3 linked regions of the Homo sapiens genome follow. The protein of the gene in region 3 interacts with the protein of the main gene of each other region in a pairwise test. Each region holds a gene or a part of one and is shown on either strand. Other genes may lie near its edges.

What was found.
Region 1: the proteins of SETX (region 3) and TOPORS interact in a two-hybrid assay, tested with the Homo sapiens proteins (one study listed by BioGRID and IntAct).
Region 2: the proteins of SETX (region 3) and EXOSC9 interact in a two-hybrid assay, tested with the Homo sapiens proteins (one study listed by BioGRID and IntAct).

What each region holds. Positions count from the first base shown.
Region 1 is NC_000009.12:32,542,492-32,546,149, reverse strand, and holds part of TOPORS (E3 ubiquitin-protein ligase Topors), read left to right. Parts: intron 1-1,823; coding exon 1,824-3,658. UniProt on the Homo sapiens protein: Functions as an E3 ubiquitin-protein ligase and as an E3 SUMO1-protein ligase. Probable tumor suppressor involved in cell growth, cell proliferation and apoptosis that regulates p53/TP53 stability through ubiquitin-dependent degradation.
Region 2 is NC_000004.12:121,811,246-121,814,502, forward strand, and holds part of EXOSC9 (exosome complex component RRP45), read left to right. Parts: intron 1-337; coding exon 338-426; intron 427-1,988; coding exon 1,989-2,135; intron 2,136-2,620; coding exon 2,621-2,802; intron 2,803-3,257. UniProt on the Homo sapiens protein: Non-catalytic component of the RNA exosome complex which has 3'->5' exoribonuclease activity and participates in a multitude of cellular RNA processing and degradation events.
Region 3 is NC_000009.12:132,344,944-132,348,601, reverse strand, and holds part of SETX (probable helicase senataxin), read left to right. Parts: intron 1-2,130; coding exon 2,131-2,341; intron 2,342-3,658. UniProt on the Homo sapiens protein: Probable RNA/DNA helicase involved in diverse aspects of RNA metabolism and genomic integrity.

The sequences.
Region 1 (3,658 bases), about 100 Mb from region 3:
TGATGTTTTTGCATTTTCAGTCCAGTAAATAGAAGACTAGACATACCTGGACCCCTGAAGAAACGCTTATTTAGCATTAATTGATTCTCTATTAAGTTATGGTTCTGAGAAAGCCAAGATGCCCTAAAGTGAGCAGGTTTAATATGAAAGCTATGGTGGAATACTTGTATTTCAGTCATGAGTTTTTGTTGTGGGTTTTGTTTATTGGTTTTTCTTATAGTTTGTTAAGGCCAATGAGTCTATTTAGAAAATTACAATTCTGTTATTTGATTAACTTGACCCCAGTTGACTAGTGATGGAACCTCCTGTGATAAAGGAGGTGGAGGAAGATGAATATTAGGCCCTGGGAAACCAAGGGCCTAGTAGTTTTTTGTTGTTGTTTGTTTATTTGTTTTGAGACAGAGTTTCACTCTTGTCACCCACTGCAATGGTGCAGTCTCAGCTCACTGCAACCTCTGCCTCCTGGGTTCAAGCGATTCTCCTGTCTCAGCCTCCCAAGTAGCTGGGATTACAGGTGCCTGCCACCATGCCCGGCTAATTTTTGTATTCTTAGTAGAGACAAGGTTTCACAACGTTGGCCAGGCTGGTCTTGAACTCCTGACCTCAGGTGATCTGCCTGCCTTGGCCTCCCAAAGTGCTGGATTACAGGCATGAGCCACCGCGCCTGACTCCCCAATAGTCAATATACTCAAAATGATTAGTATAAAATGCAGCTTTGGAGTTTATGAGATAAAGTCAAAACGCATACTAGATTTCAAGCTCTAGCAAAGTTTTGAGCCAATGTAAACTGATAAAACAAACTAATCTTTAATATTCTAGTCATCCTTATGGGAAAGGATAATAGGGAAGGGGACCAAAAACATGATTTCAAGATATTCTGTGGCCTGACTTTTGGATTAAAGAAAAAAGCTAAAGGAAGGCTTATTAGGAATGCTGAATGGAATGAGTGATTAACTGAATATAATAGTGTAGTAATAATAACAGCTGACATTTACTCAGCACCTACTGTGAGCCAGGCACTGCCTCTTGGCTGCTTTTTCATTTATTATTTAATCTTCACTAAAAGTTTCCTCTCCCTTTTTAAAATTAGCTTTCTAAGGTTGAAAAAAGAATCTTTCACTAAAAATCATAGGATTGGTTTAAACAGGTGAACTTTCTGGTATGTAAGTTATGTCACCAAAGTTGTTTTAGAAAAGTACATACAAAATATCACAGATAAATCAGTAGTCTGTATTGTTAGTGGCATATGTATATGAAAGGTATAAAGCCATGCATAGAAATAACATCAACTGAGGAGTGTGGTGTTTTTGTTTTTTGTTTTCTAGAGAGTGATAGGAGGGGAAGATAAGGGGCATAACATAAGTGGTGGATACATGGGTATTTGGTACTTTTTTTTTTTATATGTCAGATATTTCTCAAATTATTTTTAAAAAGAATAATAGAATGTTACATAATATTTGAGAGCTTTACTATGTAGCAGGTGCCTTTTCTAAGGGCTTTTTACATCTTCACAAACCCTGTAAGGCAGATTCTGTTATCACTGACCTGCAGATGAAATTAAAGCACAGAGATACTAACTGGCACATAGTCACGCTGGTAGTGTGGAACCAGGATTCAGTCTTAGGAAATCTGACTTCAGAGCTTATGCTTTAAGCACTATATTACTATGCTACAGTGCCCCTTTATAAAATAAAACAAAAGTAATGGGTCACTTAAGTATTTTCACCAAAATAAGTTTCAAGGTCTTTATTTGCATTTTTGTTGAGACTATTTAGTCATTCCTCTATTATCAGGTTACTGATATATTTCTTTCCCTTTTACAGATAATGGCATCAGCTGCTAAGGAATTTAAAATGGACAACTTTTCACCTAAAGCTGGCACTAGCAAATTGCAACAGACAGTACCAGCTGATGCATCTCCTGATTCTAAGTGTCCTATATGCTTGGATAGATTTGATAATGTGTCTTACTTAGATCGCTGCTTACATAAGTTCTGTTTTCGCTGTGTACAGGAGTGGTCAAAAAACAAAGCTGAATGCCCACTATGTAAACAGCCCTTTGATTCTATTTTCCATTCTGTGAGGGCAGAAGATGACTTCAAGGAGTATGTCCTAAGGCCTTCGTATAATGGTTCTTTTGTCACCCCTGATCGACGATTTCGCTACCGTACAACTCTGACAAGGGAACGAAATGCTTCTGTGTATTCACCTAGTGGTCCTGTGAACAGAAGAACAACAACTCCACCGGATAGTGGAGTACTGTTTGAAGGGTTAGGCATTTCAACAAGACCTAGAGATGTTGAAATTCCTCAGTTTATGAGACAGATTGCAGTAAGGAGGCCAACTACGGCAGATGAAAGATCTTTGCGGAAAATTCAAGAACAAGATATTATTAATTTTAGACGAACTCTTTATCGTGCTGGTGCTCGAGTTAGAAATATTGAAGATGGTGGCCGCTACAGGGATATTTCAGCTGAATTTTTCCGTAGAAATCCAGCTTGCCTTCACAGATTAGTCCCCTGGTTAAAACGTGAACTTACAGTTCTTTTTGGAGCTCATGGATCTTTAGTGAATATTGTCCAGCATATTATCATGAGTAATGTTACTCGCTATGACTTGGAGAGTCAGGCATTTGTGTCTGATTTAAGACCATTTTTACTTAATCGAACTGAGCATTTTATACATGAATTTATCAGTTTTGCCCGATCTCCTTTTAACATGGCAGCCTTTGACCAGCATGCCAATTATGATTGCCCTGCTCCTTCATACGAAGAAGGCAGCCATTCTGATTCTTCAGTCATAACAATATCTCCAGATGAGGCTGAGACCCAAGAGCTGGATATTAATGTAGCCACTGTTAGTCAGGCACCATGGGATGATGAAACTCCAGGACCATCTTACTCAAGCTCAGAGCAGGTACACGTTACTATGTCTTCTCTTTTAAATACTTCTGACAGTTCAGATGAAGAACTTGTCACAGGAGGAGCCACGTCTCAGATACAAGGAGTACAAACCAATGACGACCTAAATAATGACAGTGATGATTCTTCAGATAATTGTGTCATTGTTGGGTTTGTTAAACCACTAGCTGAGAGGACCCCAGAACTTGTTGAACTGTCCTCTGATTCTGAGGACTTAGGTTCTTATGAGAAAATGGAGACAGTGAAGACACAAGAACAGGAGCAATCTTACAGTTCTGGTGATAGCGATGTTAGTAGATGCTCATCTCCACACTCTGTCCTTGGAAAGGATGAACAAATAAATAAAGGTCATTGTGATTCTAGTACAAGAATCAAATCAAAGAAGGAAGAGAAACGATCTACATCATTGTCATCTCCCAGAAACCTGAACTCATCTGTAAGAGGAGACAGAGTATATTCTCCATATAACCATAGACACAGAAAGAGGGGAAGATCAAGAAGTTCAGATTCACGTTCTCAGAGTAGAAGTGGGCATGATCAGAAGAATCATAGAAAGCATCATGGGAAGAAAAGAATGAAAAGTAAACGATCCAGAAGCAGGGAAAGTAGCAGACCTAGAGGGAGAAGAGACAAAAAGAGATCAAGAACTAGAGATAGCAGTTGGTCCAGAAGAAGCCAAACTCTGTCTCTAAGTAGTGAAAGCACAAGCAGATCAAGGTCTCGTAGCAGTGATCATGG
Region 2 (3,257 bases), on a different chromosome or scaffold from region 3:
ATCATCATCTTTACCAGCATCACAAGTACTACCCAGATTACCCACAGAAAAAGGAAGTTAGTGCATCCTGGAGCATATATGTGTCTGTGGCCTCTTCTGTGGTATCTTTTATACTGTTGTATAAGAAAGTTTTTATGTCTGTTCCCTTGATGTGACAGTCCTTCACATATCTTAAAACAACTTTCACATCTTGCCTTAATCTGTGTTTACATTGTATTCATGTTTGGAAAAGTCAGGCTTAAATTATAAAGGTAGAAAAATTTCATGGTTTTAGTTTCATTAGAGAAAACTATTTGGTTTATTGTCTTTAAACAACAGAATTCACTTTTATAAATAGGTTCTGAGATGCAGTAAAATCGCTGGTGTGAAAGTAGCAGAAATTACAGAGCTAATATTGAAAGCTTTGGAGAATGACCAAAAAGTAAGGTAAGTAACTTTTCCAGAACTAAGTGGTCTTTTATTTTCATTTTTTAAATTTTTATTATTTTTTTTAGTATAAGCAAGCTTTATTATGCATGAACTTGATTTCACATACAAAGTTAGAATGGCAATTTCAATTAAAATTGACTCATTAAAAAGTGTAAATACCATGGTATAGTTATGTTACCCAAAACTCCGAAAGGTAGTGAAACTGGTAACAGATATTGCTACTCATCTTTGGACGGATACAATAAAAGTATTAATGAAACTGGTTCCCAGACAAGTATGTGTCACTTGCTCCTGTGCCTTAGGGAGGAGAGGATGTTATAACACAAGCATTATTGATGCAGTGACTTGTGGATAGTTGCTCCTTATTAACACTGCTAAAATTAGGTTCACGTTTTTTACTTTGTGTGGGAGCTGGTGATTCTTGTCCTTTTGTTTTATGAGGGATATCTTTCAAAGTGCTGGCATCAAACCCACTTATTGCAAAATGCATCACAGATGGGAATTTAAGTCTGGGTCAAGTCCAGAATTCTAAAACAATAAAGAGGAAAGACCCTCCTAAGAGCAAGAGGTCTTCATTAATCCAGACTCCAAGATACAACACAGGGAACAGGAAATGGCCCTAAATGGTCTTTTAATATATTTTTTTTCTTAAGGATCTTCCTTGAACGAGGGCAACCATATAAATTTCACACTTGATCTTTCCTTATTTGTTAATCTGAATTGAGTATACTATTTAATGTGTTTTTAGAAAATTGGACTTGTTATATTTTCTGCAATTTAAATGTAACCTATATTGAAAAATCATATAAGATTTTTGTTTGTTTTTTGAGATGAAGTCTCACTTCTCACTCTGTCACCTAGGCTATAGTGCATTTGTGCAATCTCAGCTCACTGCAGCCTCCGCCTCATGGCTTCAAGTGATTCTCCTGCCTCAGCCTCCCAAATAGCTGAGATTACAGATGCATACCACCATGCCCGGCTAATTTTTATATTTTTAGTAGGGATGGGGTTTCGCCGTTTTGGCCAGGCCGGTCTCAAACTCCTGACCTCAGGTGATCCACCCGCCTGGGCCTCCCAAAATATTAGGATTACAGGTGTGAGCCACCGTGCCTGGAGACATAAGATTTTTCTTTAGCAGTTAACATTTTCTTAGGATAAAAATAATCTAGTAACTCAAATTAATGGAAGGAAACAGGTTGATTTCCATCTCTACCTCTTACTGTGCTATCTTAAGCAAGATACATAACCCAGCATTTCAGTGTCCTCTTCTATAATATGGGATATTAACACTACCTGGTAGGGCTGATTTGAGGGTTAGAGAATAGTATATTTTAAGCACCTAGCACATGGTCTGGCACGTGGTTTAATAAATGATTATGCTAACTATTTACTCTTGTTAGGCATAATAAATTGGTGAGGTTAAGTTAGATAAACTAACTCTCTTCCAATATTTTTCATCCACCAAAGGATAAAATAATAGTTTTTTTCCCTTCCTGTCTTCTATCCAATCTGTTACCTTCCTCCCCCTTCCTTCCCACCAAAAAAACCCCCACATACAGGAAAGAAGGTGGAAAGTTTGGTTTTGCAGAGTCTATAGCAAATCAAAGGATCACAGCATTTAAAATGGAAAAGGCCCCTATTGATACCTCGGATGTAGAAGAAAAAGCAGAAGAAATCATTGCTGAAGCAGAACCTCCTTCAGAAGTGTATCTTTATTTGGTGGTTTTTGCAGTAACAAGATTCATAACACTTGGCATTATAATATTAGGCTATATGAAGGATGTGTATACTGAAATTAGTTTTTGTAAACACTGTACTTTGTTAGAGAAAACACTTAAAATACAAGATAGAGATGTGAGTCATATTCTGTTGATGGTATAACATTCAGCTTCTATTCAGTTATCCTGGAAAAAACAGATTTTAAGGACCAATTTAATTTAGTACTATAACTAAAATGTTGAGAGAATCTGTCTCTTCACATTTCTTATTAATTGCATCCATAAAATCTTGCCTGAGTTTTTTTTCTTCTTCATTGTTCAGCCATCCATAGTGTAGCTATATTAAGTTTTTTTTCCCCTAGGAACTTGGGGCACACTTGAATCAATCTTACAAGAAGAAAACTTTCATTCTCATCTTCAACAGTTCATCAAATAGCAATATTTTTGTTACTCAGTTTTCTTAACTTGTTAAGTGTTTCTACACCTGTGCTATGGACTCCTGGAACTGCCCAAATTGGAGAGGGAGTAGAAAACTCCTGGGGTGATCTTGAAGACTCTGAGAAGGAAGATGATGAAGGCGGTGGTGATCAAGCTATCATTCTTGATGGTATAAAAATGGACACTGGAGTAGAAGTCTCTGATATTGGAAGCCAAGGTAGGTGACACTTTATGGCACACTTACTATATATTACATACATATAGTATTACCGTATAGTTATATATATAATGCATAAAATGTGTGTATATTTATATTATCACTGTATATAGTAATATATAGCATATTAGCTATATAGAGATGTATAGTGGATAAATAACATACAGGATACTATATAGAGAGAATATAGATATGTAGTTATATATAGGGATGTAAGTATTGCATTTTTAGAGGGGCTAAATATTGTGATTTAAATTTCAACTAAATTATTGTGGCTAGCTGCAATACTAATGCTACTTTCTAAAAGAATATGCATATCTTTGTAGAGTAGTGGAACACTGGCATAAATGATAGTGATATTTTTAATTAAAAAAATTTTGTGTGTGTGTATGTATGTGGGTGGGTTTTAAGGGAATGAGTTTCTTGAAGATCTTATTCCTCCCTGCTGTCTTTTT
Region 3 (3,658 bases):
GTATATACTAGGTGCTGAGTAAATGTTTATCACGGATGGAATTGAAACCTGGATCAGAATTTTATGATCTGTTGCTTTTAGTCACATTGGTATAAAATAATTTAATGAAATAAAGTCATTGGGAGGGGATTTGTTTCATAATTTTTTGGTCAGTGCTATAATACATGCATGTATCTGAGTATCTGAATGGCCTGGGTTTTTGTTAGTGGGTTGTTTTTTTTTTGTTTTGTTTTTTTTTTGAGACAGAGTCTCACTCTCTTGTCCAGGCTGGAGTGCAGTGGCGTGATCTTGGCTCACTTCAACCTCTGCCTCCCAGGTGGGTTCAAGCGATTCTCCTGCCTCAGCCTCCCAAGTAGCTGGGACTAAAGGCACGTGCCACCACACCCGGCTAATTTTTTATTTTTAGTAGAGATGGGGTTTTACCATGTTGGCCCAGCTGGTCTCAAAACTCCTGACGTCAGGTGATCTGCCCACCTCGGCCTCCCAAAGTGCTGGGATTACAGCTGTGAGCCACTGCGCCTGGCCAGGGTTTTTTTTTTTTAATTGGTAATAATAACTTCTTTTTTTCTTTTTTTAATGGGCAAATGGCATAAACCTTTAAGGGCAAGCATATTTTCCAGTCATGATAACAAAAGTGAAAGATATAATTCTAAATATTTGGCTTTGAATATTTGGTTTATTTATTGATGAAAAACAGAACGTAGACCATAGAGATATATACAGTATATAGAGGAGAGGATGATTAGTAATGGACTTGTGTTGAGAAACGTGCACTTTATAAAGTTTTCTAATTATGAAGCTATCCAGCGTCTTTTATACCACAAGCTGCACTAAGGTAGTTAGCTATGGCTAGAACATAGAAGGGAAGACATAGAAGGGCCTCGGTTTTGCATTTGACAGAGAGGCTCCAGCTTCTCTTTTTTTTTTTTTTGAATGTAGTTGATAGGGATGTTGAGATATTTATAGAAAACTTCTACAAGAGAAGTGTTTAAGGCTGAGTGCTGTAGCTTACACCTGTAATCCCAGCACTTTGGGATGCTGAGGCAGGTGGATTACGAGGTCAGCAGTTTGAGACCAGCCTGGCCATCATGGTGAAAGTCCGTCTCTACTAAAATACAAAAATTAGCCAGGCGTGGTGGTGGGCGCCTGTAATCCCAGCTACTCAGGAGGCTGAGGCAGGAGAATCGCTTGAACCTGGGAGGCCAAGGTTGCGGTGAGCTGAGACCACGCCATTGCACTCCAGCCTGGGCGACAGCGAGATTCTGTCTCAAAAAAAAATAAAAAGTGTTTAAACATAGCATACTATTTTTTGTTTTCTTGTTTTTTTTCGTTTGTTTGGTTTTTTGTTTGAGATGGAGTTTCCCTGTTGTTGCCCAGGCTGGAGTGCAGTGGCGTGATCTTGGCTCACTGCAACCTCCGCCTCCTGGGTTCAAGCGATTCTCCTGCTTCAGCCTCCCGAATATGGGATTACAGGCATGCACCACTACGCCTGGCTATTTTTGTATTTTTAGTAGAGACGAGGTTCCTCCGTGTTGGTCAGGGTGGTTCTGAACTCCCGACCTCAGGTGATCCGCCCACCTCAGCCTCTCAAAGTGCTGGGATTACAGGCAGGAGCCAGTGTGCCTGGCCTGTTTTCTTTTTCTCTTAGAGGCAGGGTTTCCCTATGTCATCCAGACTGGAGTACAGTGGCACAATCATAGCTCACTGTAGCTTCAGATTCTTGGGCTCAAGTGATCCTTTTGCTTCAGCCTCCAGAGAAGCTAGGACTGTAGGCATGCACCACACCTAGCTAATTTTTCTATTTTTTTTTTTTTTAGTGACAGGGTCTTGCTTTGCTACCCAGGCTGGTCTCGAACTCCTGACCTGAAACAGTCCTCCTACCTCAGCCTTCCAAAATGCTGGGATTACAGCTGTGAGCCACTGTGCCTAGCCAATATCTCATACTCTGTGTACTCACTTTTCATAAAAGTGGCCACATTTGAATAGTTTTCTTTAAATCTAAAATACAAGCTCTAATACTTTACATTTCAGAATTTTTGTACTTAGGAAAAGGCTTTCTAGGTCGTCACATTCAGTGTATTTTGTTGATGATAAGACATAACGCACACTGCCCATTTTATTTTCCTCTAGGTTTTATGGGAATTAGAAACCTTACGTCTCATAAATCACTTTGAAAAATCCATGAAGGCAGAAATTGGAGATGATGATGAGTTATATATAGTAGACAATAATGGAGAGATGCCACTGTTTGACATCACTGGGCAAGACTTTGAAAATAAGCTTCGAGTTCCTCTTCTTGAAATACTGAAATATCCTTACTTGCTTCTACATGAACGTGTTAGTGAGTATCTTGATGGTTCCTCAAGTTATATCAGTTTTATTATTTTAGTACCATAAGAATTTAGGCTTATCTATATTGCAAATTTGTTTGCTAAACATATAATTAGGATATATAATTAGGACTTCATTTTTTTTCCAACGTTTTTTATTTTTTGAGTTCAAACACAAAATACCTATTTTTGGGGCACAGTTCAAACTTATCTTGTTCAGAGGGTAACTGAAGATTGTTTTTATTTTTTTTTAGAGACAGGGTCTTGCTGTGTCTCCTAGGCCGAAGTGCAGTGGCGCAGTCATGGCCCACTGCAGCCTCTACCTCCTGGGCTCAAGTAATACTCCTGCCTGAGCCTTGTGGGTAGCTGGGAGTACAGGCGTGTGCCATTGCGTCCAGCTAATTTTATGTTGTGTTTATTGTAGAGATGAAGTTTCACTGTTGCCCAGGCTGGTGTTGAACTCCTGGGCTCAAGCAGTCCTCCCACCTCAGCTTCCCAAATTGCTGGGATTATAGGCACGAGCCACTATGCCTGGCTCTCAACATTTTATTGTGAAAATTTTTTAACATAGAAAAGTAAATTATACAGTGAACATGATATACCCATCACATAGTTTATACGGTTGTTAACATTTTGCTATATTTGCTTTATTACGTATCTGTTCACCTCTTTGTTCAATTATTAATAATTTTCATTCTCGCCGGGCATGGTGGCTCACGCCTGTAATCCCATCATTTTGGGAGGCTGAGGCAGGCAGAGCACCTGAGGTCAGGAGTTCAAGACCAGCCTTGCTAACATAGTGAAACCCTGTCTCTACTAAAAATACAAAAATTAGCCAGGTGTGGTGGCAGGCACCTGTAATCCCAGCTACTCAGGAGGCTGAGGCAGGAGAATCACTTGAACCTGGAAGGCGGAGGTTGCAGTGAACCAAGATTGTGCCACTGCACTCCAGCCTGGGTGACAGACAGAGACTCTGTCTTAAAAAATAGTAATAATAATAATTTTCATTCTTGTAGTATGTCTGTGGCAGGGTTTCTCAGCCTTGCATTGGTGACATTTTGGATAATCCTTTGCTGTGGGCTGTGCCGTCCATTGTAGGATGTGTAGCAGCATCCCTGGCCTTTGTCTACTAAATGCCGCTAGCACTCCCTATCTCCTTTGTGACAACCAAAAATGTCTCCAGACATTGCTGAATACCCCTTTTGGGGGGTGAGGTATAAAATCACCCCTGGTTGGGAAATGCTATTCTGTAGTAATTTTCATTAACCACTATGGCATGGCTTATTATAGCTGTCTAGATTTTGGTTGTTGATATTTGCATTTCATAA